Regions from separate parts of the Homo sapiens genome. Here regions 2, 3 and 4 are each linked to region 1. Evidence: fine-mapped expression QTL. A gene starts in region 1. Each other region holds a variant in brackets. All regions are shown on one strand. Distances are between the middles of the regions. Region 1 holds the start of RCSD1 (RCSD domain containing 1). Region 2 overlaps RCSD1 (RCSD domain containing 1). Region 3 holds the start of TRP-CGG1-1 (tRNA-Pro (anticodon CGG) 1-1). Region 4 has its middle 28 kb from the start of RCSD1.

Evidence for each region. PIP is the estimated chance that this variant, and not a neighbour inherited with it, causes the effect.
Region 2: its variant is fine-mapped to the expression of RCSD1 in macrophages (Nedelec 2016, PIP 0.95).
Region 3: its variant is fine-mapped to the expression of RCSD1 in whole blood (TOPMed, PIP above 0.99).
Region 4: its variant is fine-mapped to the expression of RCSD1 in whole blood (TOPMed, PIP above 0.99).

What each region holds. Positions count from the first base shown.
Region 1 is chr1:167,626,858-167,634,295 of GRCh38, reverse strand. It overlaps RCSD1 (RCSD domain containing 1), which reads right to left and starts at 4,064. Exons shown (of 7, transcript NM_052862.4): 1 at 3,867-4,064. The coding sequence starts at 3,872. RefSeq lists enhancers at 3,278-3,347, 5,866-5,915, 5,926-6,095, 6,176-6,235 and silencers at 3,888-4,107, 4,128-4,207.
Region 2 is chr1:167,661,656-167,669,093 of GRCh38, reverse strand. The region is part of intron 1 of RCSD1 (RCSD domain containing 1); the gene reads right to left. Among named protein-coding and RNA genes, the nearest start is that of RCSD1, 35 kb to the right of the region's middle. RefSeq lists an enhancer at 5,955-6,054. The variant A/G (reference allele first, on the strand shown) is at 3,144.
Region 3 is chr1:167,709,117-167,716,554 of GRCh38, reverse strand. TRP-CGG1-1 (tRNA-Pro (anticodon CGG) 1-1) reads right to left here and starts at 1,830; the gene lies at 1,759-1,830. TRP-AGG2-1 (tRNA-Pro (anticodon AGG) 2-1) reads left to right here and starts at 996; the gene lies at 996-1,067. RefSeq lists silencers at 1,710-1,809, 2,110-2,349 and enhancers at 2,820-2,979, 2,474-3,312. The variant G/A (reference allele first, on the strand shown) is at 2,842.
Region 4 is chr1:167,598,553-167,605,990 of GRCh38, reverse strand. No RefSeq gene overlaps it. Among named protein-coding and RNA genes, the nearest start is that of RCSD1, 28 kb to the left of the region's middle. RefSeq lists an enhancer at 4,225-4,374. The variant G/T (reference allele first, on the strand shown) is at 4,338.

The DNA of each region.
Region 1 (7,438 bases):
GCCCCTGCCCTCAAGGAGCCTTCCGGGGTGACAGTTAGGGAGGCTGACAGTTCCAGTTCTGCCTAGTGTTCTAATAGTGGCTTGAACAAAGTGCTCTGAGAGTGCTGTAGAGTCTGGGGGCTTCACAGAAGCCTTCCAGAGGTGGAGACGTTTGAGCTACAGACCGAGAGGGGAAGGAGTTCCCTATTTATGCTAATCATTTATCAAGCAAACTTTTATTGAGAAATTATATGACTATATGCCAGGCACCGTGCTCATTCTGGAGACTCAAAGACCAATGAGAAAATCTGCCTGCAAAAGGCTTTGTATGGAGCTGTAAAAGTTGGTACTGCCATTTTCCCTGGCACCATAGAGAACTTCACTCTTCTGGGCAGCTTGGTGATTTCTGACTTCCCTTCCAGCGCATGGTCTTTACTCTTTTCCATCTTCTCCATTCTTATTGTATCCTGAAGTCAGAATATACCTGTACTGGAAAAGATGCTTTCTCACCTGGTTCCCTTGCTCACTCCATGAAGTGGCATTTTTGCTGTATCATCCCGGCTACATCACTGCTGCCAGCTGCCTCAACACCTCTCAGAGTTTCCTACTGTCCATGGAGCAGAATCCAGGGCCATACAACTCTGGCCTTCAAGAGTTGCAGATGGCCTCTGCATGAATTAGAAAAAGCCACCCGTTTGAGGCTCAACTAGGCAAGGAGATTTTGTATGAACAAAAAGTAACCTTTTCCTCCAAGTGACTTGGATTTCAGCTCCCACTCACCCACTTAGCTGGGCATCTACTATACTCAGTGACCTTGGATTTATCTTATTACTTTCATTTTTTTCTGTTACTGCTTTCCTACCTTCCTTCCCAGCCAGCTGGACAAAGCTGGCATGTTCTCCCTGTGCCCATCCCTTATACCTTCTCCACCTTACCCACATCTTTCTTCCAAGGCTTCTTCTGAACCTAATCTAGTCTGAACTCCTGCAGAACTCATGATCTGCAGCAGTATTCAACTGGCATTTATGCATTTGAAGATTATATATGTGACAGGATATAGTCCCTTTATTGGGTTGTGAGCTTTTAAAAGGCAGGGATCAGATGGCATCTATACTTTGTTTATTCCACAGGGCTTTATGAGGGATGAAGATTGATGTTGTTGATAATGGTAACAGTGACTTTAAAAAAAGATCTCTCAAAGACTTCCAATAATACGTGAGCTTTAGAGAATGAATATTGAGTAACCCTCTTTGGTCTGGTTTGGATTCCTAGTACTGAGAAGTAATATAACTTAATTTCTTTCCAGATACAGTAGCCCTTTCATGTCCCAAAACTGAGTTTCACCTCTCAAAAGAGGGTTTTACTCTGAGATTTTCAGAAACCCCCAAATCCAACTCCTGCATATCATGCTTCACCATGAAAAGTTTACTTCCTGGCTAAGAATGGTCACTTCCCTGGCCCCTAGATTTCCTCTTTACTTTCTTCACTAGCAGTTGCATGTTGTTTTTTTGTTTGTTTGTTTCATTTTTGTTGTTTTTTGTTTTCCAGGCATTTGGACAAAGAAACTTCAAAAGCAGCCACTGTCCAACCAGCAAATTGATGGACTAGGCTTAGTGACCTACTGGATGTGAGACGCAGGGTGATTTGTCAGGCTTCTGGCTGGCTGAGCTATTCCCTCCCTGCGTCCCTCCCAAACCCTAGCACGGGAGTGATTTTGGTATCTTGGTGGAATCCTGCATAAGTTACTACACATCTCAATAAGGGAGGGCCTTCTCTTTTACTGCAATCCCCTCCACCCCCCAAGCCACACAGGAAGTTGCTCAGCTGATAGTTTCAGGGCCTCTGCCATACACTATTCCTTCCTCATCTGAGGGGGGAGAAACTGCCTCTGTGGAAGGAGACCCTCCTTGTTTTCCTAGAACAAAGTTGACACTTGCATTTGGCCCTCCAGCAGCAACCTGCTTGAAGTCTAAGAGTTGCTTTTCTCTTATCTCCAATCCTTTTCTTCAAGAGGTTAGACAGGCCATACATCATAGTGAATCTGCAGCCTGGGGCCTAAGGCAGTTTGTACACTTCCAGAAGAGGGAAGCCACTTCTAAAACAATTTCTTAAGGAGACTTCACCCAACCCAAGAAGCTGGGTGTTGCCTGGGCCATTTCCCTCCTCTGCCCTGAAGCAGTGGCCAGCTCAGAGAGAACCCTGTTGTTTTGTGTTTGTGTGATCTTTGGGTGGATGTGTGCACACCACCTGCTGAGCTTCGCTGTGTGCGTGCCTCACCGCCAGCCCTAATCTGCCAGAGCTTCCTGGCCTTGCAAATGTTTCTGTGGAGGGTCCATATTAGACTCCAGTGGTTCTTGCAGTCTATAAAGTCTCCTTGAAGGTGATTCCCTGTTCCTTGAAGACAACTGGCTGGGCTGGATGCCTGAATATAGCTCCCTGACTTCTCTAAAGGACAAACTTATTGCCCCTTTAGAGAAGTCATGAAGCTTTGCCGGCAAGCACAGAGTCTAGCTTAGAAAACACAACCAGGGCCAGGAGTGGTGTGGCTCATGCCTGCAAATCCAGCACTTTGGGAGGCCAAGGCTTAGAGGATCACTTGAGCCCAGGAGTTCAAGACCAGCATGGGTAATATAGTGAGAACTTGTCTCTACAAAAAATTTTAAAACTAGCCAGGCATGGTGGTACACACTGGTAGTCCCAGCCACTTGGGAGGCTGAGGTGGGAGGATCCTTTGAGCCTGGGAGGCAGAGGTTGCAGTGAGCTGAGATTGTGCCACTGCACTCCAGCCTGGGTAACAGAATGAGACCCTGTCTCAAAAGAAAAAAATAAAAAGACCACCAGGGCCCAGGCACAGAGCCTGGAGCGGGGAAGAGATAGCGGAGTTAACTGTGAATCCTGATTGCACTGACCACAGTCTAGTGAGCAACACATGTTTCCTTTTGAATATGAGTGGGAATCACCTTTAAAACTATATAACATTTGCATCTTCTCAAAAGCCCCAGGTCCTACTAAGATTGACTTAGGGCTACATATCAGGTCTCATTTTCAAGGAGGAAACACAGGGAAGCCTCAAGATGTGCAGAAGAGAGGGATGTGGGGAATACACCCAACCACTCCTCTGCTGAGGTTGGAACAGAACAAGGAAAGTCCCCGGACCTCCTCTCAGCAGGCAGAGAAGTGCGGGGCCTCCCTCTGGCAAAGCCTGCAGATGTGGCCAGCATACCTCCATACACACAGCTTCAGAGGCAAGGGTGTCCAAGGGAGTCTTAAGTTTTATCAGAAATAATGTCATTCGACTGACCAGTAAGGGGAGCTTTCAGAAAGTTATGGAAGAAGATGCGACAGACACAGGAAGGACTTCAGAAGCAAGAAGACAACTGGACTCTCTAAAATGCCACTCCGAAAGCGAAAAGGGAAGCCCACAGACCCACGAAGACGTGCTGGCCTCGTGTTGCCAGTTCTGTTTCTCTTTCAATACCCATCTCTTCAGATTGAAGGGCTTCTGCCTTCTTGCAGTTTTTGCTGACACGTTTACCCATTTACAAACCTTGGCTGCACCTAACTTTTTTTTTTTTTTTTTTTTTTTTTTTTTTTTAGCATTTAAGTTCCTAGCCAAAATACCCGGGCCTCTAGGAAAGCCCTTTTCTCTCCCTCTGAGATCTTTCCTTACCAACCCCAGCCTCCCAACCCGGGTGTCCTAGGTGGGACCAGGGACGATCCTTCGGAGTTGGTCAAGGAGGCGTCGGAACAGCAGGCATTTGCCCTTCTAGTTGGCAGCAGCGATGAGCCGCGTGCTCCATGCTCAGGGCAGGGGCAGCCGCCCGGGGAAGGGGCGCCCGATACACCGCTCACCGCTCAGCCCCGCGTCTCCCTCCGGGGTCCTTTACCTCCATGTCCTTCAGGTGCCGACTCTGCGGCAGACGCACCCGCTCGCCCGGGCCGGAGCTCACGATCCCCGCTGTCCCCTCCGCTCCCGGCCGTGGCCAGTTTCGGGCTGCGGCGGGCACAGGGCGAGTGGGCGGTGGCGCGCGCCCGGCTGCGCTCGGCTGCGGGACTGCCCCGGCCGCGGGGGCCCTGCGCGAGAGAACGAGGAAGGAGGAGGAGGGAGGGAGGGAGGAAGGGGAGGGGAGGGGAGGGTGGGGAGCGGGGAGGGAGGCCGACGATCAGGGTTTAAATTTAGACGCAAATCTAAACAGATACTGTCCCTCCCAGGGCAGGACTCAAGAGCGGGAGCCACGACTCCATGTGCCCAAACATGGGGATGGGCAGCCACCGGGCCCCTCTGTCTCGCGAAGTTTCTCAGGACCCTGGGCTTTGCCACGGTCTCAGTCCTTCTCAACGTCTCCCTCCCTTAATGCGCCTTCTTTCTTTTTCCTGTCCCTTCAAGAATTAGAGTGGTCCTTTAATTCTTTTTGTTTCCTCTCTTTTCGATTTCCTTCTTTTGTGTCCATCCTTCCTGCTTTCCTTCTTCCTCTCCCTCTTTTTAAAATTGCATTACTGTCATACCTGGTTTCCCTGCAGTTCTTGGGTGGAGTTCGAGGACCCTCCCTGGTGGAAGGCGTTTGTGTTCTACCAAAAGAGGAGCCCTTCTGACCGAGGCTTCAGAGCTCAGCGTGGCGCCGACGGGACCACCTTTCCCTTCTCACCTCTTTTCCTCTCCACCTTCCAGGAAACCACTATCTATCCATCTATCCATCTATCTTCTGTATACGAGTAGAAGGAGGAGGAGGAGGAGGAAAATCAGGAATCCACGCAAAGTTTTCCAAGCTCCCTGAAGTGGTAAATCTTTTCTTCAAACCTTGCTTTGACTGATGCATTCGGTTTTGTGGGAATTTTGGCTCCCACAAGCTGCTTGCTAAAGGGCCTCGTCTCCATTCCTGTTAAATATAGCAAAGGGCAAGATGCTCAACATCTGATTCCCATAGGGCCCAGCATAGCAACCTTCCTTTAGGGCCATCCCGGCTGGGCAGCAGAGACCGCATGGGAGGGATTCGGGGACTGGAATCTGCACCAGGGTCACTCCCTGCTACCCGGATCCCGGCCCCCTTCAGACCCTTCGGCAGAGAGAAACAGGAAAATGCCTTGAGAGACCTGTGAGTGCCAGGGTATTGGCTGGGTATATGACGCCTCTGGGTTATCCCACAGCATTCTCACCCGCCCAACCCCAGCTCAACCAGGGGAGGGGAGCCCCATCAGAGGTGGGCAATGGGACAGGTGATGGTGAGCACTGTGAAGAGACATGTGGAGAAACAGTAGAGAAAAAAGGCTGAGAGTCTGCTCCTGCTACAAAGACTACCCTGATTCTGGTTATCCCGGCACCATCTTTGCACTTTCAGGCACTTAGATTGCTGCTTTGGGTACCAGTCTTAGAAATATGGCCTCCTTCCTGTCCTAGAACTTTCTAAGGCCCAACTTTCTAAAACACTGGCAGCCCTAATGCCAGAGTGGCTTCTAGTTCTTTAGCTTAGCTAAGCATAGAGGAAGACGCCTGGTTTTAGGAACAGACAGATTGAGGGCTGAATTCCAGCTCTGCTACTTTCTAGTTGTATTTTTTAGACAAGTCACTTAACTGCTCTGATTCTCATTTTCCTCACCTATACAATGTAGTAGGCACTCTGCAAAAAGTGGCTGTTTTTATCATGCTTAGCCCCATGTACAAGCTTCAGATGAATAAGAGCCTGATATTTCTTTTATTTAGAGACAGGCACTCGGGGACCCAGTGAAAAGAGCCCTCACTCCCAGGAATTAATAGTGAGGCCCCTCCCAGTCCAGCCACATGGCTGCTCAGGTGAAGACTCGAGAGCAGAGTCGGCAGTAAGGAAGGGTATTTACTGGTAACCTGCAAGGCACACTTTTGCTCGTGCTTCTTTCCTTTCTTTTTAAAGGTGCAGGACGTAGTGATGACTGCATAGTCTACTATCAGGTCTTCTAACTCTGCTCCACAGGGCCTTTTCCTTTCTCCCTCTACCTAGTCCTCCTTTGTGCTCAGAATGGGGCTGCCCCAGCACAGGTTTCTGGCTTCACAAACAGGAGGGCGGAAGTGCTTACCCAGAGGAAACCGTTAGGCCTAGATAACATCAGTCACCCAAGGTGACTTGCAGCTGCTCCCCACGCCCTGCTTAGGCCTCTCTTGGCTGAGAACAGATGACCACAAAGCAAACAAGCTTGGCCTCCACCATGCTCCTGGGTCCCCAGTGCAGAGTTTAATGCTGCTCCAGAGCTATTTGGGCCCCAGACTGGGACTTCTCCTGAGGGAGGGGGTGGAAAACGGGGAGGGAGGGACCAAGAGGTAGCCCCGAGCTGTGTTTAGGCAGCCATGAGTAGGTGTGGTGTGTGTACTCCCCTTATCTTCTTCTTCTGTCCCTACAGAAGATCTCCAGGAGCCAGAATAGCAGTAACTCTGCTGATAAACACCCAGGTTTGCTGGGTTATCTGGGATTGTAACTGGCTGCTCTGGGGGCTGGGAGGAAACAACAGCCCAAGGGGAAGGGAAAGTGACTTTCCGAGGAGTTGGTTCCCCTCTCTCTCTGGAGGTCTGGCTGGCTAACACGGAACCACTTCCTTCAGTCTACCCTGGGCCTTCCCCTTCATATATCCTGATAGCCAGAACCAGCCACGCAATAAGTAGAGGTCATCAGGTAACTAACAATAAAAACACCAGGCTGGGCTCATGCCTGTAATCCCAGAACTTTGGGAGGTGAGGCAGGTGGATCACAAGGTCAGGAGTTAGGGACCAGCCTGGCCAACATAGTGAAACCCCATCTCTACTAAAAAAATACAAAAATTAGCTGGGCATGGTGGCGTGTGCCTGTAATCTCAGCTACGCGGGAGGCTGAGGCAGAAGAATTGCTTGAACCTGGGGGGCAGAGGTTGCAGTGAGCCAAATTCTTGCCACTGCACTCCAGCCTGGGTGACAGAGCCAAGACTCCGACAAAAAAAAAAAAAAAGGCCAGGTGCAGTAGCTCACGCCTATAATCCCAGCACTTTGGGAGGCCGAGGCAGGCGGATCACGAGGTCAGGAGTTTGAGACCAGCCTGGCCAACATGGCAAAACCCCGTCTCTACTAAAAATACAAAAATTAGCTGGGCGTGGTGGCATGTGCCTGTAATCCCAGCTACTTAGGAGGCTCAGGCAAGTGAATTGCTTGAACCCACAAGGCAGAGGTTGCAGTGAGCCGAGATCGTGCAGCTGCACTCCAGCCTGGGCAACAGAGTGAGACTCCATCTAAAAAAAAAAAAAAAAACAAAAAATAAAAAAACAAGAACACCAGAGATACAGCTCAGCCAAGGGAGGGGCGTATGGGGAGGTATGGGGAGGAGCCAGGCATATAGAAGGCCCTCAATAAATATTTAGTGAATGAGGCCAGGTGGTAGCTCACACCTGTAATCCCAGTGCTTTGGGAGGTGGAGGATGGTTTGAGCCCAGGAGTTCAAGGCTGCAGTGAGCACTCTATCCTTGG
Region 2 (7,438 bases), 35 kb before region 1:
ATTTCCTTACTTAATCTTTGACTGTACTTGGAATTAATGCATAGGGGAAGTGTCTAATTCGGAGGCAGAAGAAAAATAAAGGGATTCAGAAGAACACAAGCTTAAGTTTTTATAAATTACTGAATTCACAAATCTGTTTAACTACATTTGCAAAACACTACACAAAGTTCTAGAAAGTATTTATGAATGCCTAGATATACAGACAGCACAATCTGAAAAACTGACATCTGAGCTTCCTTCAAGCACAGTTTCACCCTGGGCACTTCCAGAAAACCCCCTGTGAAGCTCCCCTTCCCCACCATGCACCTTCCCCCATTCAGGCAGAATTGGCAGCTCCCTCTTTTTTTTTTTTTTTTTAGTACATCTTGGACATATTCATTCATTCATTATTTCTGTATTCCAGGCCCTGCAGTTGGTGCTCAGGGTTTAGGAATGAACCAAATCAAAAGAGTCCTTTCATAATGGAGGTTACAGTCTAGTAGGGGAGACATATATTCCATAGCCATTATTATCTTAGCTCCAGCTTATTATTTATTAGGGTGATAAATGCTGAAGAGGAAAAGGGTTTTAGGAGAGCAGGTGACAAGAAAATCTGACCCAAAGATGTGACATTTAAACTGAGGTCAGTAGAAGTGATCCAGGCAAAGTGTGAGGTTTGAGGGGTAAGGAGGGTTAGTCAGAGGGTGGCCAGAGGTAGCCAAGGGCATTTGAGTAGAGTTTACACAAAAACCTCCTGGAGGAGAGACAGGAGGTGTTTGAGGAACTGAAAGAAGATGTGGCTGGAACTCACAGAGTTTTTTTTTTTTCTGGAGACGGAGTCTTGCTCTGTTGCCCAGGCTGGAGTGCATTGGTGCAATCTCAGCTTACTGCAACCTCCGCCTGCCAGGTTCAAGCGATTCTCCTGCCGCAGCCTCCCGAGTAGCTGGGATTACAGGTGCCACACTCAGCTAATTTGCTAATTTTTAGTAGAGACGGGGGTTTCACTATGTTGGCCAGGCTGGTTTTGAACTCCTGACCTCAGGTGATCCATCCGCCTTGGCCTCCTAAAGTGTCGGGATTACAGGTGTGAGCCATCACACCTGGCCCGAGAGCTTTTAAAATACCCACATTTTTCATGTTTTTCTCTTTCTACTGTAATTGCTGAGCACACAGACCATGTGTTATTCATGGCTCCATCCCCTAGCCCATAGTAGGTACTCAGTAAATGCCGGTAAATGAATGAACAAATAAATGAATGATGCCTCCGTAAACCAATACCACTGGGGCAACATTGTGAGGGATTGATAAATATAGATCAGGACCTTGAAGCAAAAATGGAAACAAATTGTCATCCAGGGAGGCTCTGAGCATACCAGGCTTGAATATTTTCATTAAGGTTCAGTGACTTGTCCAAGCTCCCTAAAATAGTAACCAAAGGGCAAAGAATGAGACTTTCTCCTGCCCAAGCCATTACTTAACAATCTGAGCCTCCTGTCTCTAACTGGAGCTATGAAATCTATTATAATTCCATATCTCTATCCATGGGTATCTGTCTTCTCCAGTTTTAACAACCCAACCTATCCTAGAACATGACACATCAAAAATACTTAAAATTTGTTTCTTTATCTAGAGTGGTTGAATATATCTGTTTGCTGCTTGATATTTTCAGATCCATTTCAGCAAGGAGAAAATTTGAAGAAAAGAAAGTTATAATGCAGAAGGTAGAATTAATATATTATGAATATAGTAGAATGGTGTCTGCCCCAGTTCTGAAGTCCACATCTCTGGTCCGGTCTCAGTATCTGCCTTCAGTCACCAAGGGAGAGGCTCCATGCCTCCAAGCCCCTTCCAAGGGCTCCTCTGCAGCCCAGGGATGCTCAAGGCAGGATTCCACAGTCTCTAGTATATCAAGAGGGCTCCATCCAAAGTACGGGATAGGCGCCCCCTCCCTTGAAGCCTACTCAGCTACAATGAGGCGGCCCCCTCCCTTGAAGCCTACTCAGCTACAATGGGACCAAAAGGAGTCTTGGAGCTGAGTTTTTAAAATAAACTTTTCCATCTCCTCTCACCAGCCTGCTACAAAAAGGGAAAAGAAACAAAAGCCATCCAGCTGAGTTGAATTGCTTCACTTGAAAGTTCTATTGCAGGGGTCTCCAATCTTTTGGTTTCCCTGGGCCACAGTGGAAGAATTGTCTTAGGGCACACATAAAATACACTTAAAAAACTCATGATGTTTAAAGAAAGTTTATGAATTTGTGTTAGGCCACATTCAAAGCCGTCCCCCTTGGCCACATGTGGCCAATGGGCCGTGGGTTGGACAAGCTTGTTCTATTAGGTTTTACAGAGCAAAGCAGCTAGGCTCCTGGCATGGCAGGGAAGACTGTTGGGTGTTCAGCCTGCAGAGGTTTGCTGATGGCCAGCCCTCTCTCTTCCACCCACCCTTTCCTCTGGATGCTCCCTTTGGGCCTTGGGCTGATTCACAGTTACTGTCCCCTCCCAGGGCTGACGGAAAGCATTCCAGGGCTTTCCGTCATGGTCCCATGAGAATTCAGACCTGTGTGTGGGGAGTGGCAAGTCCCCTCTGTAACTAGCATCATCCGCATACTCAGGAATTCTCTCTACACTTCCTTCCTGCTCACTGTCTCTCTTTAGAAACTGGTTTTGAATGAGTAGTAGTAGGCTTTCATAATGTATTTTTCAACAGTAATAAAACAGCTAATTTACTGAATGATTATTGTGCCAGGTACTGTGCTAAGATGATCTCATTGAATCCCCATGACACCTCTGTGACATGGATTCATAATTATCTCCTTTTTACTGATGAGAGAATTGAGACTCAGGAGCCCAAGTAACTGAATTATGGGTTGTGGAGCTACTGATGGGAGATCTGGAACCCATGCTCAGTTGGTTTATTAAAGCCTGTGCTCCCAACCACAACTCCACACTGCCTCCAGCAGGAAAAGCATAGAGAGTTTACGTTTTGGGATTAAAAAGTGCTCATTTGGCTAGGCATGGTGGCTTACGCCTGTAATCCCAGCACTTTGGGAGGCTGAGGCAGGCCTATCACTTAAGGCCAGGAGTTTGAGAACAGCCTGGCAAACATGGCCAAACCCCGTCTCGACTAAAAATACAAAAATTAGCCGGGTGTGGTGGCACACGCCTGT[A/G]ATCTCAGCTACTCAGGAGGCTGAGGCACGAGAATCTCTGGAACCTGGGAGGCAGAGGTTGCAGTGAGTGGAGATCATGCCACCGCACTCCAGACTGGGCAACGGAGTGAGACTCTGTCTCAAAAAAAAAAAAGGTGCTCATCAAATTTATTAATAATGAGACAATAGTAAAAATGGGCAAAGGATTTAAACAGACACTTCACCAAAAAATACATATGAATCACTAATAAGCACATTAGTCATTAGGTAAACACAAATTAAGACTGTAAAGAGATACCACTACACACCCACAAGAATGGCTAAATTAAAATGAACTGACAATACCAAATGACGGTGAAGCTGCAGAACAACTGGATCACTCCTATATTGTTGGTGGGAATGTGAAACAGTATAGTCACTTTGAAAAATATTTTGGTAGCTGCTCGTGAAGTTAAGCATACACCTACACTACACCTACCAACAATCTTACTTGTATTTGCCCAAGAGAAATGAAAGCTTATGTTCACATAAATACTTGTATACAAATCTTCAAAGAAATTTTATTATTAATATCTGAGACCTAGAAATAACTCAAATGTCCATCAATGGGTAAGTAGACAGACAAATTGTGTTATACGTACATTATGGAATACTATTCAGCAATAAAAAGGAACAAACTACTGATACACACAGCAACATGCATGAATCTGAAAAGCATTGTGTTAAGTGAAAGAGGTCAGACAGAAATGACTTCCCGTATGGTTCTATTTACATAACATTCTTTAAAAGGCAAAACTATAATAACAGAAAGAAGATCACTGATTGCGTGGGACCAGTGGTGGGGGCAGGGAATTGACTGTAAAGAGTGTGAAGGGTCTTTTGGGGTGATAGAAATGCTCTATATCTTCTTCTTCTTTTTTTTTTTTTTTTTGGTGACACAGAGTCTCACTTCATCACCCACGCTGGAGTGCAGTGGCACGATCTCGGCTCACTGCAACCTTCACCTCCTGAGTTCAAGAGATTCTCGTGCCTCAGTCTTCTGAGTAGCTCGGATTACAGGCATGCGCCACCACGCCTGGCTAATTTGTATTTTTAGTAGAGACAAGGTTTCTCCAGGTTGGTCCGGCTGGTCTTGAACTCTTGACCTCAGTTGATCCACCCGCCTTGGCCTCCCAAAGTGCTGGGATTCTAGGCGCGAGCCACTGCACTGGGCCAATTTTTGTATTTGTAGTAGAGACAGGGTTTTGCCATGTTGGCCAGGCTGGTCTCAAACTCCTGACCTCAAGTGATCTGCCAGCCTCAGCCTCCCAAAGCACAAGGATTACAGGCGTGAGCCATAACAGCCAGCCAGAAATGCTCTATACCTTGATCATGGTCTACATCTCGTGGTGGTGGCTATATGACTGTATACATTTGTCAACACTCATCAATGTATACACTTAAAAGGGGTGAATTTTATTGTAGATATATTTTACCTCAAAAAGGTGATTAAAACATTTTAAAGTGCTCATGATAGTTCAAATACAAAAGTTGAGGTGCACTCAGGCTGCAGGAGGTCTTTCATTTGCCCTAGGGCTAGGAACCTGGCTTGGTCTCAGGATGCCAGCTCTGTGTGCCTCAGGGCGTGAGCAGGAATGCGCTGTGGCTGCAGGAGGCTGGCAGCCTCTGGTAGCTGCTGGGAGTAGGCCACATCCAGCCACTCCTGTCCAGCCCAGGGCAGCTGCCAGGACTCATGCAGCAAGATAGTGGAGACAGCACAGAATTTGGAGCTTGGCAAGACCAGGTTTGGATCCCACTCTGTAATTGACGGGTTGTGGGATCCTAGGCAATTGACTTAACTGTTCAGACTCTCATCTGTAAAATGAGGATAATAACACCCCCTACAAGGTCATGGGGATACTAGGAGATGGTGTTTGATTAGACAGTTTGGGTTCACATCCAGACCTTGCCTTTTACTAGATGTGTGATCTTAGGCAAGACACTTGACCTTATTGAGCCTTAGTTTCCCCACTTGTAAAATAAACATTTATAATAGCACTTATTTTTTAGAATTGTGATAAAGCCCAAATGAGATATTGCATATAAAGCCCCAGCACAGTGCCTGGCACATAATAAGCTCTCCCCTCATTTTAGCTATTGTTGTTGTCACCTAAGATACCAACTGGCACACAGTAGGTGTTAGTCAAAATGTGGGCTCCCTTGCACTCTTCGTAGAGATACCAGGCTGTTGCCAGTTTGGCCCTGAAGAATTCTAAGGGGGTGGCAGGGATCTGCTGTTGCCAAGTCATTTTCATTCCCATCTTGCAGAATAGGTTGGCAGAGCAGATGGGCTGGCATTGCATCTTCATGTCGGAGGAATTTACAAATGGGAGTCTTTGGAACCACAAGAGCAAGCTGGAGTGTGATTCTGGCCTCCAGCCATGAGGACACTCTCTCAGAGAAGGGCCATTTGTGTGCTGGGGTCATTTGGATGTCTCCAGGCTGTGGGGTAGGGTAATGGGTCAGGATCAGCCTTCAGAGGGAAGACTGCTTGTGGCTTCTGCAGGTTGGGGAGGGTCTTGCCGTTACCCAGGCGTATGGTATGAAGGGGCCATAAAGGGCAAGTCCAGTGCAGCTGGCTAGTGCAGCTGGCCTCAGGGGTGTGGCCACAGTTTGAGGGCTGTGCCTGCCCCTGCAGGTCTAGGCCTGATGGGGATAATTTCTCAAGTGAGGGCAGGGGCTCTCAAAGGCTTCTGTGGGTGAATGGCCTGAGTAGTTCTCCAGGGAACACAATGGTCTAGGGAGTGGGACTACGGGGTTAAGTCTCTGAGCAGACAAGCCCTGTCCTGCAAAGTTAGAAGGGAAGATCCAGATGAGTCATTTCAAGAGCTGAGCAGCTGGGAGGCAGGCGAGGCCACTGACCCAGCAGTCAGAGGAGCGGCGTGAACTCACTGGCCCTGATGACCTTCTGCTTCATCTGTGAGATGAGGGGCTTGCAAAGGACGCTTCCTAAGACCCACGCTGCTGGCTTGCTCTTCATTTTTAACATAACGTAAGAAGAAAATTGGGAAAACTTGGGTTATCTTTCTTATGTAGATGAAAATAGAGGTGGATAATGGATAACCTAAATAAGTTCAGGCAGAATCGCAAGAAACTCGGCCAGGGAACTCAGGGATGCCAAGCAAACCCAGCGCTTGCTACAGCCCCAACATCTTCACACTCAGCTCTTCCAAGTAAAGAATCCCATCCCTCCTCCTCCTCTTCCTTCCTAAGAAGATTTTAGGAGTGGAACTCCCTGCCTTTCTTAAATCAGGAATAAAATGCCCAATATGATACGGTCCTTTTATTCCAAATTAGCAAGCTGAGGCCAGCCGTTCTTTCGAAAAGGAGAGTTTCTGGAAAGCAGATGGCATGGCTCAAATAGCCTAGGAGGTGTCCACAAGCAATTATAGAGGAAAGTGGATGAAAAACTGGTAATGAAGAACAGTGACCAAGATGATCAAGGGACACAAGGCCAGAAGAAGTATAATTGTGAACGGGGAGAAGAAAAAAAGAAATGAGGAGGCAGAAAGAGAAAGAGAGAAAGAGAGAGACAGCAAGATCAAGACAGCCTGCATATACCACATACACACACGAGTGTGCTGCCTGCACACCCCAATCCCCCAGCACCCCAGGGGATTGCTGCTACCCAGCTAGGGAAAAAATAACCTTCACTTTGGTTTCATCAGAAAAGTCATAAAAGATGGAATGAAGATTTTGTTTTCTTTCCTGTTACTTTTTTGCCATCTGCTACAGCAAGGGCACAGGCCCAGCCCCTTGGCCAGCTTGAAAGCCTCATGGTTCTGAAGCAGGAAGGGTCAAGGCAGGAAGCAGGGGCTCTAAGAATAGAATGGGTCATCTAGGGAAGCTTTTGGAATAGATACAGACAGGGCTTTTCACTAATCCCCTAGGGTGAGTGACTGGGGCACTCCTCACTCCCTCAGGGGGCTCCCAGACTCTAAGCAGAGGTTAACATACAAGGTTGCTGCACAGATCAATCTGTGCATTATATTCCTCATGGGAAACCCAAGAAGGGTCCTCCTTATAGTGAGCACAGAAATATAATGGCCCCTCAGCCCAAGAAGCAATGAATGCAAGATCTAAGATACAAATAAGCCAATCTTCTCTTGCTACACTCCCATCAGCATCTGTACTATCCTCCACCAAAGGCATGAGGAATCTCTTTTTGGATACTGGCCAATCTGCTCCTTGTGTAGTTATTTGGGCAGATGACTCACAAGATTTTATATATATTAATCGACAGCGGAACTGTGGACAGCCCAGGCAGTACTTTATCC
Region 3 (7,438 bases), 82 kb before region 1:
GAGGTCAGGAGTTGGAGACCAGCCTGGCCAACATGGTGAAACCCGCCTCTACTAAAAATACAAAAATTAGCTGGGCATGGTGGCAGGTGCCTGTAATCCCAGCTACTCGGGAGGCGGAGAATCGCTTGAACCTGGAGGGCGGAGGGGGCGGAGGTTGCAGTGAGCCGAGATCACACCACTTCTCTCCAGCCTGGCGAAAGAGCGAAGCGAGACAACGTCTCAAAAAAAAAAAAAAAAAAAGAAAGAAAGGAAAAAGAATTTAAAATATAGTTAAGAAGCCATGCTTACTATATCTAATTAAAGATATTGGGACAATCGAACAGCAATCACACAATTGGTTGCCAATTCTACAGTAGAATTTCGTGTTGGTGTAGGTGTCTTGCGCTCTAAGAAGTTACAGTTGGAGGAGATAAGACTGAAACCCAGTTATTTACCACATACTATTGGTTTTGATATGTTAAAGGATCTTTTTCTGGGAAGGTTAGAGTTTGGGATTTGTCCAAAAGCAAACAGGTTTTCCAGCTGAAGAGAACACTTCGAGTAAAAACAGAGATGGGAATTCACAAGGCTAGATAGGTAGGGCTTTGAATATTACAATAAAAAATATCGGCAAGAAACCGAGATTTTAACATTATAGAAAAGTGCGAAAAAGAACGAATGAAACATCCAGAACTCACTCAGTAACGGAGAGAGTCTGGAATCTGCCACAGTGACATTGTCCCACACTAATAGCCATTTATTAGCCATGAATAGAAATACAATTACAATTTTCGAAATAAGAGGTCGATATTATACTGATAGTGACAATTTTGCTGTCTTCTGTGTTACTGATTTTCAAAGAGCAAAACAGAAAAGAAAGAAAATTGAAAACGCGGTATCTATAGAAAGCAAACACAACCCAAAGATCGAATCCTAACATGCGAGCAACCACTTGAGGGCGCAGGACTAAATAGCTATGTGTTCCTTTCTGATGACAGTAAGGTGGAGTTTGTGTCGGCTCGTTGGTCTAGGGGTATGATTCTCGCTTAGGGTGCGAGAGGTCCCGGGTTCAAATCCCGGACGAGCCCTGTTTTGGAGTAAGAATCACTTAAAGGTGAGTTTTTTTGGGGATAGATTACTAAACGTAATAAATACAGGTTGGTCAGAGTAAAACACAAAATTGAGATTTTTGGAAACTTAGAGCACACTCTACATTGAAATACCATTAAAAGGCCTCATTTTGAAAATGTAAAAAGTTTGCTAGTAATGTAGTATTGTACTATGAAAACATTGTCCCTAGCTGTCTATTCCTGGGTGCAGCGCGTGTACAGGGCCATCGGGAGCTCAGTTCTTGGCTGCCTATGGCGTGGTTTAAACTCATCCACGACAGTGCCCCTCATCGGGGGTGGGGATATCTCCTGAGCGCCCCTTTCCTCGGAAATGCTGATTCCCGAACCCCGGGACATGCTAATCCATGACGCCCCCTGCTCGTTTGGAGGAGTTAAAGGCGTGCACAGGATTCCGCACTAGGCGTCTGTTTTTCAAGAGTGTGTGTTTTACATGGTACAAAGCAATTTGAATGCGTTGCCTTTGGGCGTACAGTAACCATATGTTGTATTAATTGAGCTCACATGGTCCCTCGCTTCAAAAAACAAAGGGGATCAACATTCGAGCTCATGGGACCAGTATGTTTTCATTTAAGTTTCTGAATGGAATATGTGGGGAATTAGGGGGAAAAAATCTGTTTTTAAATTTCGGGTGTGGGGTGGGTAAAAGCCTGGGCTCGTCCGGGATTTGAACCCGGGACCTCTCGCACCCGAAGCGAGAATCATACCCCTAGACCAACGAGCCGCTCTCGGCAAGGGCACTCCCAGAGCTTCCCTTCAGCCTTGTTCCGCCTCTCACCTCGTGTTCCGAGCAACCACGACCTGCGACCCTTATACTGCGTGTCCTCTGATTCCCTAAGCCTCGGGTCCGGAGCGCTTACTGCCCCACAGCGTGGAGGAGCAGGGAGGGACCGGCTTTTGCCTGGTCCGGCCGTTCCAACCCCCCATCGCCGGCGTGGCCTCCACGTTCGCACGCGCTCCCGGAAGCCGCCTTCCGGCTTACGGGCTCGCCCCGGCTGTTCCACTCGCAGTGTTGGCGGGCGCCCGGGAGCCCGGGCTGAGGAAAGTGCGGGGCGGGGCAGGGCGCCTCAGGACGCAGCCCGGTGCCAAGTCCCGGCGGCGCCCCGCCCGCGCCCAGCCCGTCAGTGCACGCAGAGCTGGGCCTGCTCGCTCCGCGAGTGGGTCGGTGAATGAAGACGGGGAGTCCGAGCGAGGGAAGGGAATACCCGAATCCTGGCTAAGAAAGGGGTGGTGGGAGACGAAATCCCATAGGAGTGAATATTAAGTTAACTCCCCGAACCTTCATTTGGGGATAGTGCACTCTTTTAAGCCCTTTGCTTGTATTGAACTCACCTGATATTCGTAATAATCCCCTAGGTGCCATTGTATCTCCATTTGCAGATGAGGAAACTGAGGCTCAGAGATGTTAAGTCGCTCACATAAATCCACTGGGCTAGGAGCTGGCGGTGGCGCTGGTCTAGGAACTCCCGAGGTCCTGGAGGGTGGGACAACTGGGGGCTGGGGCGTGTGAAAGGGACTGGAGAGTTGGGGAGAAGATTGGTACCTCGGTAGCTTGGAGAAGAGAGGGCAGTGGCAGTGGGCCGGGTCTTCTCCCTCCCGTCCAGCAGAAAATGTGGGCCTGCCCTACTGCTCTTCTGCTCAGAGGAGCGGGAGTCCGAGTGCGGGGTCTCCCGCCGGTGTGGTTTCCCGGCCTGGGGTCTAGCTCGTCTTGCCTGCTTTCCGGACTGCTCTCACC[G/A]CTTCCCCCCACTTCACGACCCCAGCCCGCCACTCTGCACTCCGGCTCCTTGCAGTCTGTGGCCAAGTTGCAGACGTCCCTTATTTCTAAAACACTCTTGCATTCTTAGGCTACTTTCAGTTCAGCGTAAGAGAAATCCATTGCTCTGTAGCCTGGTCAGACGTTCTTCCAGGTCCTGGTGGTGCTTTTGCCCTGTCACCTGCTAACCGAGAGCTTCCCACGTGCACCCGCTTCTCTGCTCTTTTCTCTCTCTCTTCCTCTCTTCCTTTTAATGTCAGTGAGCTTTTGGGACGACACTTAGCGATAGGAGGTCAGGACCAGGGTTCATGCCGGTGGGGAGTGTAACGGGAAATGCAGTGAAGACACCTCAGAACAAACAGCGAGCACTGAAAAACCTTTCTTTAGCCCACTCTGGCGATGTAGAGAGCCCTGTCGCTGGCTGGTGCAGGGGCCAGGTCTAAGGTGGGCAGCCCTGTCTACGCCTTCTATTTGTTTGGAAGTGCGTAAAACTATTGACACCCTGTCCTTGTCTGAGACCACTTTTCTTCCTCCTACTTACCTAAGGTGTGAGAACTGGATATTGTTTAATTTCTTTTCTTTTCTTTTTTATTTTGAGACGAAGTGTCGCTCTTGTTGCCCAGGCTGGAGTGCAATGGCGCGATCTCGGCTCACCGCAACCTCTGCCTCCCAGGTTGAAGTGATTCTTCTGCCTCAGCCTCCCGAGTAGCTGGGATTACAGGCATGCACCACCACGCCTGGCTAATTTTGTATTTTTAGTAGAGACGGGTTTCTCCATGTTGGTCAGGCTGGTCTCGAACTCCCGATCTCAGGTGATCCGCCTTTCTCGGCCTCCCAAAGTGTTGGGTTGAGCCACCGCGCCCGGCTAGATATTGCTTTTAACACACTGTTTGGTAGTTTGAGGATGGGTCAAGGGTGGGGAAGGTTGGGGAGAGAGTTTTCATTAGGGCAAGTCCTGAGCAGCTAAGCGTCGCCCTCCTTCCCTTTGAGAGTATGCGTGCCTTCGCTGGGGCTCTCTCTGCCTTGCCTGAGCTGTATCCCACTCCTGGGAGCTTTGACATATTCCTGCCACTCACCATGTGTGTGGAACATGATAGAGGTGGACACTTCTATCTTTGCTGAGTATACACTCTCAAGGGTTTTTTGTTTGTTTTTGTTCGTTGTTGTTTTAATTTCCCAAGCCTGGGGAGAGGGATAAAAAATAAAAATAAGTTCCCAAGTCTGCTTTTCCACTCCGTTAAGTAGTTTGTAATGGCTTCATAGTATCCCATCAAGATAATGGCACATCCTTTTCTTAATTATTCTTCCACTGTATAAGTAAGTGGTGTCAAACATTTTGTTGAAATTTTGTGTATATACTTTTTTTTTTTTTTTTTTTTGAGACAGGGTCTCACTCTGTCACTCAGGCTGGAGTGCAGTGGTGCCATCATGGCTCACTGCAGCCTCAACCTCCTGGGCTCAAGTGATCCTCCTACCTCAGCCTCCCAGGTAGCTGGGACAGGCATGTGCCACCTACACCCAGCTAGTTCACCCACACCTGGCTAATATTTTTGTATTTTTTTGTAGAGATGGAGTTTCACTATGTTGCCCAGGCTGGTCTCCCAACTCCTGGGCTCAAGTGATCTGTCCACTTCGGCCTCCAAAGTGCTGGGATTACAGGCGTGAGCCATTGCACCCTGCCCCTTTCCATGTACTTTGGATTATTTCCTTAGGACACACTCCCAGAGTTGGCCTGGTCACAGAGACAAACACTGATCCTTGGCCACTTTTATAACTCTTGATGCAATTCTGTGCTAAGGAGCTTGGCTTGGCTGGTTAACAAGTAAGATGGAAACGTGGAAGAAGAGGAACAGTGGCTCTCAGATAACTTTAAAGCCCATGATTTGATCTTTTAATTTCATTTAAGGGTTTTGATGGCATCAAAGCTTTTGAGAATGCTGATAATAAGTATTGTTGATGATAACAATTTTGACTTGGGGTCAGATGCATAAAAGGGAGTAAAAGAAATTAGAAAACTAGTAAATCCATTAGGAGATGATTAGAATAACTCTGGGATGACATTATTGAAACTGTGAATGGGCATTTAAATCACTTGTAATGGGGATTCAGTGACTATTTAATAACTAAGATTTGCTGGCTACTGAATTCTTACCCAATTTAGGCTTAGGTGGTGCAGACTTGGCTCTGTCTAGCAAGATCAGTCCTTAGGAATAAGAATACAATTAATTACATGGGTTCACCACTCCAAGGAACCTTCTCGCTAACTTGGCACACAAGACTGGCCTCATGCTCATATGCTGAGCCTTGTTTGCTGCTTGTGGGGTTATGTACTAATGGACTAGAAGGCCATGGCAGTTGTCTTGGTAGGCTTGTGTCACGCACAGCAAGCCTTCCTCCAATTTAAACAGAAACTTGGATCTGACTGAAAATTTGTGTCTTTTTCCAGATTCTAGTCCAATATCCAGCAAAAGCTTCAGCTACATTTTACTAAACATATTTCTATTTGGTTTCCCTCAGTGATCCTTTTTATGAGGTTTAGATCATGTGTCCCTCTGAATTTTGCAGTCCCTTCATTGAATCACTATTAATGAATTCTTGGAATTGCCTCAGCCTCTTCATTTTTCATTCAAAAGGTTTTGCTTGTTTTTAAGTTCTGAGAGTACATGAGGTCAGAGGGGTAATATGAATCTCAGATGTAGATTGTGAAAGAACTGCTCTCCGCTGGGACACCTTCACTTTCACCAAGGAGTCTTATTACCTGTTCATCTTATTACCCTCTGTTTTATACAGACCTAGTTCTGGTCAGATGTTTCTGGTTAACACAAAAGTGTATCATTTTCATGATCAAACTTGTGATTCTTTATGAAGACATGCTCATGAGAGTATGTTACAAAAAAGAAAGAGAAAATTAGATATAGTAAAATCCCAATTTTGCACCAACCAAGAATTAAAACAAAACGTATATAATGCACTAAAAAAAAAGAAGAATATCCATAAAATAGTAACATTAGTTATCCCTAGATAGTGGACTTAAAAATACTTTTTTGTTTGCTTCTTAAAATTTTTTCTTCCCCTCCACCAATTTTCTAAAATAAAGATGCATTGCTTTTACAATGAGAAAAAAATTAGGATAATTAACGTTTTTAAGCCACAAAGAAAACAGGGGTCTTGAAACTGCATTTCTTTGTTCTTGGTAGAATGGAGACACAGAATTAGAAGCAATGTAAAACAGGCCCTTTTGTGCTTCTCCATCCCTTCTGCTTCCAGAGGTGGTCAATAAGCCTGTTTGTATCACTCCTGAGAGGCCAGGTGCAACTGTGATGGGGATGTGCCTGGCACCGTCTAGCATGTGTGGCTTCCTTAGATAGTCAAACAGCAGTGACTAGTATTGGAGGTCCTATTGTTTGAAGAGGCTATTATTTTCTTGGGGGGGAATGAGTATCTGTGTCTTGGCAATATCCATCCTTTGAGTACCAATCATATAATTATTCTAGAATTTTGTTTCTGCATGCTGGTTAAAGTGCAATTCAGTCCACTCATTCTTTAAAACAGAAGCACCTGGTAAGTGTGGTAACTGACTTAGGGGTTTACCCAAGTTAGAGTAACTTTCTCTAATTTCTTTCTTTTCTTTTTTTTTTTTTTTAGAGACACAGTCTCACTCTGTCGCCCAGGCTGGAGTGCAATGGCACAATCTCGGCTCACTGCAACCTCCGCCTCCTAGGTTCAAGCGATTCTCCTGCCTCAGCCCCCGGAGTAGCTGGGATTACAGGTGTGCGGCACCCTGCTCAGCTAATTTTTGTATTTTTAGTAGAGACGGGGTTTCACCGTGTTGGCCAGGCTGGTCTCGAACTCCTGACCTCAGGTGATCCACCCACCTTGGCCTCCCAAAGTGCTGGGATTACAGGTGTGAGCCACTGCACCTGGCCACTTTCTTAAATTTCTATGTAAAACTACATCATGAAGGACTAGAGTCATATTACTTGCAGGAGTACTTGGGGGCGGGAATCCTAGCCTTTTTTTTTTTTTTTTTTTTATTGAGACCGAGTCTCACTCTGTCACCCAGGCTGGAGTACAGTGGCGTGATCTCAGCTCACTGCTGCCTCCACCTCCCGGGTTCAAGCGATTCTCCTGCCTCAGCCTCCCCAGTAGCTGGGATTACAGGCACACCAACAGACTCAGCTAATTTTTGTATTTGTAATAGAGACGGGACTTCACCATCTTGGCTGGTCTTGAACTCCTAGCCTCAAGCTATCCACCTGCTTTGGCCTCCCAAAGTGCTAGGATTACAGGCATGAGCCACCGCGCCTGCCCAGAATCCTAGCCTTTTCTGACCTCTTCCTTCGGCATCCTGCTTCCCTCATAGTGTCTTCCTGGCTGCTCCAGGCGGAGGGTGTTCAGCTCCCATGGAGAAGCCCCACAGCTTTTCAGGATTAGGGGGATGTGTAAGACATCTCTTAGTTCCTGTTTTGGATGTGGGTGGTTTTACTGTTGGCTTCCTTTACCCTCTGAGGCATGTAATACATTCATCATCTCTTCCTCCTCTGAGGAGTCTCAAAGAACCAGTTTCCTGCCCCATTTG
Region 4 (7,438 bases), 28 kb after region 1:
TTTACTTTTTAAATTTTGCATTACACTAAGTAATGATATCCATGAAATCACCACTCCAATGAGCTACTGATTTTTTATACCTATTACAATAAACACAGGGCTACAATAAATTTTTATTCCTATGTTATCTAAAACTTGCACGTACACTCTGGGAAATACCAATAGAGGAAGGAGAGCTGTGCTGGCGCTGGTCTGATCTGACTCATACTCTACCATCCCGGAGCCTCAATCACTGTCTGGTTGGAGAGGAGAAGGCCCTGGTGTGCTGGCAAACCCTGAACTTGACTGGATTAGATTAGGATGAGAGGGACAGGACAGTCAGGCTTCTGATAAGGATGGAAAAGTGGGAATTGGAGTTCAGCCTCCAGGAATCCTGCAGGCCCCCTGGTAGTGGAGCCATATATGTATTTGGGGTCCCACTACCAGAGAGGAGATACATGGGGACCGGTGAGGGCCAAGAACGTGGCCAGAGGTTGTGGTTGAGGAGTTTAGGACCCCAGATGAAAAACTCCTGTCTCCAGGGGCTGAAAGCAGATACTTAAGAATTCTTCTTGTGGGATTTGGACACAGACTGTGATCTACCTGCCTGCACAATGTCTCATTGTTCCTGACTTGTTAAGAAAGCTTCTCCTGATACTTGGTAGCAGTTCAGGTTGATGTCAGCCCCTGGGCTGTCCAGCAGAAAGATTTTCCCAGGTTTCTCAGTGGAGACTGGAGCCACCAGAACTGTGACACCCTGAACTTGAACCAACCAGCCAGTCTTGTCAGGTACCTCTGACCCGAAAGGTCATGCCAAGAGCCCAGAGGCTCTGATCATGATCTCAGCACTTCATCCACATAAAGGAGCCCACTGTTGTGTTTCCCAAATGCTGCAAGGCTCTTTTGCTCCGGGTTTCACTGATCCGCCCCTCCTTTTAAAAAGACTCTTGGATTCTGCCAACATTACTCTAGGCCTCCACTCTCTGCTCACCAAAGCCTAAGCCCTGTGGCCTTAGGGCCGATAAGTCCTTGGATACATTTCCCAGTGTGTTTTTCCTTGGTGGGCCGGTGAGACAAGAGACGATGGGGGTCTTTACTGTACTCATGTGACACATGGCTGTTCTGCATGCGGCAAGGCAGAGGGGCTGGGAAGGAGGGAGAGTATGAAGTGTCTGTTTTGTGCCAAGCATTGAGCTAAGCCAATTGTCACAATAATCCTGGAGGCAGATACCATCATCTTCAGTTTATAGATGAGGAAAGCTAAGCTCAGAGAGATTAAATAACTGTGAACGGCAGAAAAAACCGAGCCGGAATTAGACTTCAGATCTTCTGACCTTAAGTCTGGTGCTCTTTGAGTCATGCCACCTGAAATCAATTTGAGAGAAAGGGCAATTGTTGGCTCAATTTTGATGAAATAAGAATTTGAGGGGACACCCTCTGTGTGCCTAAGGATGAGGCCCAACACAGGGAACAGAATTCAGGAGACTCTGCAAGGGCAGAACATACTGGTAACATGTCCTGCAGGCTTTAACTCCTATTCTTTTTTCATGATTGTTCCACAGTCTTCTTTCCTAAGGACTATTATCAGATCCATATACCCATGTTAGTTAGAGTAAATGTTAGGCTTCTGTAACAAATAAACCCAAAATATAATGGCTTAAACTTAAGTTTATCTCTCTCACATAAAATTCCAGGTGAGTGGTTCAGAGCTGGTACACCACAAAATGTCTTGCTCAGCTCCTATCATCACATCTTGCATCCCTACCATCAAGATGGAGGAGAACATGCAACTTCTTTTTAAGAGTCTGGCCTTGAGGATTGCACATATCACCTCTACTTATATCTCATGTTGTCCCAAACAATGACATGAACAATTGTAGCTGCAAGGGAAGTTGGGAAATAGAGTCTTTATCTGAGTTTCCATGTACACAGTAAAAAAACTTCTGTTGCTATAGAAAAGAGAAAAAAATTGGGGAGAACATAGAGGAGCCACTACTATAATAATTTTGGAACACTCTTACATGAATTGATAGGCCATTTATGTTTTCTTTAAGAAGTCTGGGCCAGGCGTGGTGGCTCATACCTGTAATCCCAGCACTTTGGGAGGCCAAGGCAGGCGGATCACCTGAGGTCAGGAGTTCAAGACCAGCCTGGCCAACATGGTGAAACCTTGTCTCTACTAAAACTACAAAAATTAGCCGGGCATGATGGCAGGTGCCTGTAATCCCAGCTACTTGGGAGGCTGAGATGGGAGAATTGCTTGAACCCGGGAGGCGGAGCTTGCAGTGAGCTGAGATTGTACCACTGCACTAAAGCCTGGGCGACAGAGCGAGACTTCATCTCAAAAAAAAAAAAAAAAAAAAAAAAGTCTGGATTATGTGGCTTAGAGCCACAACTCTGCTACTTAGATGTGATCTTGGCAAGTTGTGTAACTTCTCTGAATCTCAGATTTTTCCTCTGTACAATGAAGTGATGAAATTAGCCTACCTACCAAGCTCGGATATTGGAAGGCCCAAATAAACTCATGTCTTTGAATGCTGCATGTAAGCTGCAAGGTCCCATGAAAAGTGAAGTGCTACAGCATTGGGCCACCCAGAGGGGGGTTTTTGTTTTTGTTTGTGTGTTTGTTAAGCATTTGGTGCTGGTTCCTCAGCTTGGTTTAGGGTGAAAACCACATATCCAAGTCTTCTGTATGGTATTTCCACTCTCAAGGGAATACTTTAGCACATCCTATTCACTTCTACTGGTTAGCCTGCCTCTCTCCCCAGAGCCCTGCCACTCTTGTGGGCTCCCATCCTTCCCTTGGGTGCAAGTCACTGCCAACCCACCCCGACTGGCCACTTCTGATCCCTAATCACAAGTGGGTAATAAAGGCCCCGAAACTTACTCCTCCCGGAGTGGATTTGGGTGGAGGGCCCCGAAACAGGCCCTGCAGGAAGGAGCCCAGGAAACGGCCCCCGGCAATGCTAATCTGAGCGTTTTTCCCCAAGCATATGCAACAAACCTCAAAAGGCCACCTCGGCATGCTTTCACACCCCTAGTTGAGATTGTATGACAGTCAGCAGTGTGTGTTAGTTACAGCAGGACCAGTTGTTATCTATTAGCCTCTAAGCTCCTTAAGGAAAGAAGGAAATAAACCTTTTCTCAGCATCTATTATGCCTTAGGCTCATAAACAATGTGCCAGCATTTATTCCTCACCCAACCTCACTGCCAGGAGGAATTATGACCTCCTTCTTGGTAGATGAGGAGTAAGAGGTTGAAAGAGTACCTTGTTCAGTACCAGACAGTCATCAAGTGAAGGTGGCAAGATTTGAATCCAGGATCTGATGCCAAGTCTGGCTCCCTCCTATGACACCGTGATTAATCTGTACTGTAGTTGAGTGTGAAAAGGTGGAAACTATGTGTTCAGCCATTGTACCTTCCCTTGAGCACTAACACGATTTCATGCCAGCAGGGCCTCAAAAGGATTAAAGAGAATGGCATTTTTCACCATTTTATCTCTGACAGTGCACAGCACAGTTCCTGATACGTGAAACAGGTCATTATGATATTTATTGGACATACCGAAATTGTTGGACTGATATTTTTTAAAAAATCATAGCTGTATTTATTCATTCCAAGAGCTGAAGGTGAAAGTGCCTTGCAAAGCCTTCCTGGGAGTAAGGTTGTCAGGCAGATAAAACAAGCTAGTGAAATCAGGGAAAAGATTTCCTGGACACAACTGTTCATGCCAGGCTTCCTGGCGGAACCACAGCAGGAGTTAACCAAGGGTCTACTGTGGTTATTGCCTGAGCCACACTCACAGCCATGAATCTGTGGCAAAAGCAGATGGCACTTCCGGCAGACATCCCCCAGAGGAGAGAATTTTCCATGAGGCCTGTGTATGGCAGCCAGCCATCCTGGGTTTCCTGGCATGGTCCAATTTCCCATCTTTTGTCTCAAAGTCCTTAGAAGGACATATGTATGGGGTGGGTAAAGTCCTGCTCTTAGTTATTTAATTTATTTATTTTTACAGGCAGCCTCTCAAACCAGAGTAGGCTCAGAGAGACTCCTGAGTCCTGCTTTTGAATTTGGAAAATATGGTTATAGCAGGCACGTGGAAAGTGCCTTTTATTGCCTCCCACCTGCAGATCAAAGGCAGAGGGGCCGGCCTGCCCAGGTCAGCCTGTTTCACCCGGGAAAGGGAGGGCCATCTGCTCCAGTCAGGAAGCCCTGGGGAGCCTTCTAATAGAGGAAGCCCACCAGGGCCAGAGCAGGGCTGTGTCCTAAGAATTCAACAGTCCCCGAAAAGTCCAAGAAAGTGGTAACAGGAAAGAAGCAACAGCAGAAGCAGAAACTGCTCTTTTGATCTCATTGC[G/T]CAAAGGAAGGAGGTGACCCAAGGCCTCTTGTGACACACACAGAAGCACATAGAAGTATATTTGGGGAAGTGTGTGAGAGCTCTCCCCAAAGATGTCTTCAGATTAGAGGTCAACCCTGGGTGGCTGCCCTGGGGCAAGCTGGGATGCTCTTGTGGTTCAGCTCTTTCCACACTCAGACGGGGTCACTGCTGGGTAACAATATGCCTAGCAAGCACAGGTAAACCAAGCCAAAAGCCTATTTGTTTTCTAGGATCAGTCTGTTAACCCCTCAACTCCCAGCCCAGCCAGGCAGGTCCCTATGGGTTAAGCTTTGTGCTAGGCCTCAGGAGACCTTGGGTCTCATCCCGATCCCCTAAACAGCTCTGAAGCCTGGGGCACATCACTTTTTTCCTCTGACCTCAGCATTCTCACCGGTTCAGTTAAGGAATCAAGAAGGCTAACAGAAGTTTAGAGGGCTTACCGCACACTGGCTGATCACTTTGCCCTGAAGTGATTCAACACTAAAAAAGCTCGAAAGTGTTAGTTTTCTTCAGTTTGGTAAAATCTGTGTGATTCTACACATCCTATTCATTCATTCGCTTGCTTAAACTTGTCCTGAGCATCACTATACATCAGCACTGCTAAGTAACAAACACTATTAGTGTCTCCTTATTGAGTTCCAACTAAGTGTCAGGCGCTTTAGATAGATTACCCCCACTTAATCTTCCTCACAGATCTGTGAGGCAATACCTCCATTTTTATTTATTTACTTTTCTTTTTTGAGACAGGGCTTTACTCTGTCACCCAGACTAGAGTACAGTAATGCAGTCATAGCTCACTGCAGCCTTGACCTCCCAGGCTCAGTTGACCCTCCCGTCTCAGCCTCCCAAGTAGCTGGGAGTACAGGTATGTGCCACCATGCCCAGCTAATTTTTATATTTTTTTGTAGAGATGGTGTTTCACCATGTTACCCAGGTTGGTCTCAACTCCTGAGCTCAAGCAGTCTGCCCACCTTGGCCTCTCAAAGTGCTGGGATTACAGGCGTGAGCCACTGTGCTCAGCAATACCTCCATCATTAGAGCAAGAAAAGGTTAAGCAGCTTGCTCTAGGTCATTCATCTTTCATTCTCAGTCAGTCTCCAAAGCTGGTGTTTTAATACACTAGTTCTATCCCTGCAGAGCTAAATGAGATGAGGTCATCCTCATTTCAAGGAAGTTCCAGCTAGCAACCCTGTGGTCAGAAGGCCAGGTTGCAGCCCCGAGAGTCCTGGCATTGTTCATAGGGTACATTAGGACATGTCACACTTGGAAAACCTGGCGAGCCTAGAACACATAGCAAACCATTTTTCTCTGCATGTTCCTAGCCACGGTTCTGCAGACCTAGCTTCCCACATGAATATTCTTTCTGTACCATGAATATTACAAACTACAGAAATAGTGCCCTCATGTGTCAGGAGCACAACGCACCTTTGAACTCTGGAGAAAGGCACATTTTAAACAATCTTAAAACTATGAAACACTTTTGTTTTTGCTTCTTTTGTTTGTTTTCGCTTTTGCTTTCTATGTCTTTGAAGCATGCTGGGAAGAAATGATGAAAAATTGCTAAATCTGCAGAACTCCACCCAGAGGCAAATTACTAAGTACCAGGACCTGCAGGAGAAACTAAAGGGAAGTAATCTTGGAATAGTTGGTATTCTATGAATTGTGCATCTGTGGATTCAACCAACTGCGGATCAAAATTGTGTGAGAAAAAAATTCCACAAAGTTTCAAAAAGCAAAACTTGAATTTGCATGCACTGAGTACTACATTGAATCCAGGCAAATGAAGTGATGTGTAAGCATTGCATTAGGTAGTCCAGATGTGATTTAAAGTATTTGGGAGGATATGTGTACATTATATGCAAATACGATGCCATTTTTTTTTTTTTTTTTTTTTGAGACGGAGTTTCGCTCTGTCGCACAGGCTGGAGTGCAGTGGCGCGATCTCGACTCACTGCAAGCTCCGCCTCCCGGGTTCACGCCATTCTCCTGCCTCAGCCTCCCGTGTAGCTGGGACTACAGGCACACGCCACCATGCCCGGCTAATTTTTGTATTTTTAGTAGAGACGGGGTTTCACCGTGTTAGCCAGGATGGTCTCGATCTCCTGACCTCGTGATCCGCCCGTCTCGGCCTCCCAAAGTGCTGGGATTACAGGCGTGAGCCACCGTGCCCGGCCGATGCCATTTTATATAAGGGACTTGGGCATTGATACGGTTTGGCTGTGTCCCCACCCAAATCTCAACTTGAATTCTATCTCCCAGAATTCCTACATGTTGTGGGAGGGAACCAGGAGGAGGTAATTGAATCATGGGGGCTGGTCTTTCTCATGCTATTCTCGTGATAGTGAATAAGTTTCACAAGATCTGATGGGTTTATTAGGGGTTTCTGCTTTTGCTTCTTCTTCTTCTCTCTTGCTGCCGCCATGTAAAAGGCGACTTTTGCCCTCTGCCATGATTCTGAGGCCTCCCCAGCCATGTGGAACTGTAAATCCATTAAACCTCTTTTTCTTCCTAGTTTTGGGTATGTCTTCATCAGCAGCATGAAAATGGACTAATACAGTAAATTGGTACCAGTAGAGTGGGGCGTTGCTGAAAAGATACTCAGCAAATGTGGAAAATGTGGAAGCAACTTTGGAACTGGGTAACAGGCAGAGGTTGAAACAGTTTGGAGGGCTCAGAAGAAGCCAGGAAAATGTGGGAAGGCTTGAAACTTCCTGGAGACTTGTTGAATGGCTTTGCCCAAAATACTGATAGCAATATGAAAAATAAAATCCAGGCTGAGGTGGCCTCAGATGGAGATGAGGAACTTTTTGGGAACTGGAGCAAAGGTGACTCTTGTATGTCTTAGCAAACAGACTGGTGGCATTTTGCCTCTGCCCTAGAGATTTGTGGAACTTTGAACTTGAGAGAGATGATTTAGGGTATCTGGTGGAAGAAATTTCTAAGCAGCAAAGCATTTAAGAGGTGACTTGGGTGCTGTTAAAGGCATTCAGTTTTAAAAGGGAAACAGAGCATAAAAGTTCAGAAAATTTGGAGCCTGACTATGGAATAGAAAAGAAAAACCCATTTTCTGAGGAGAAATT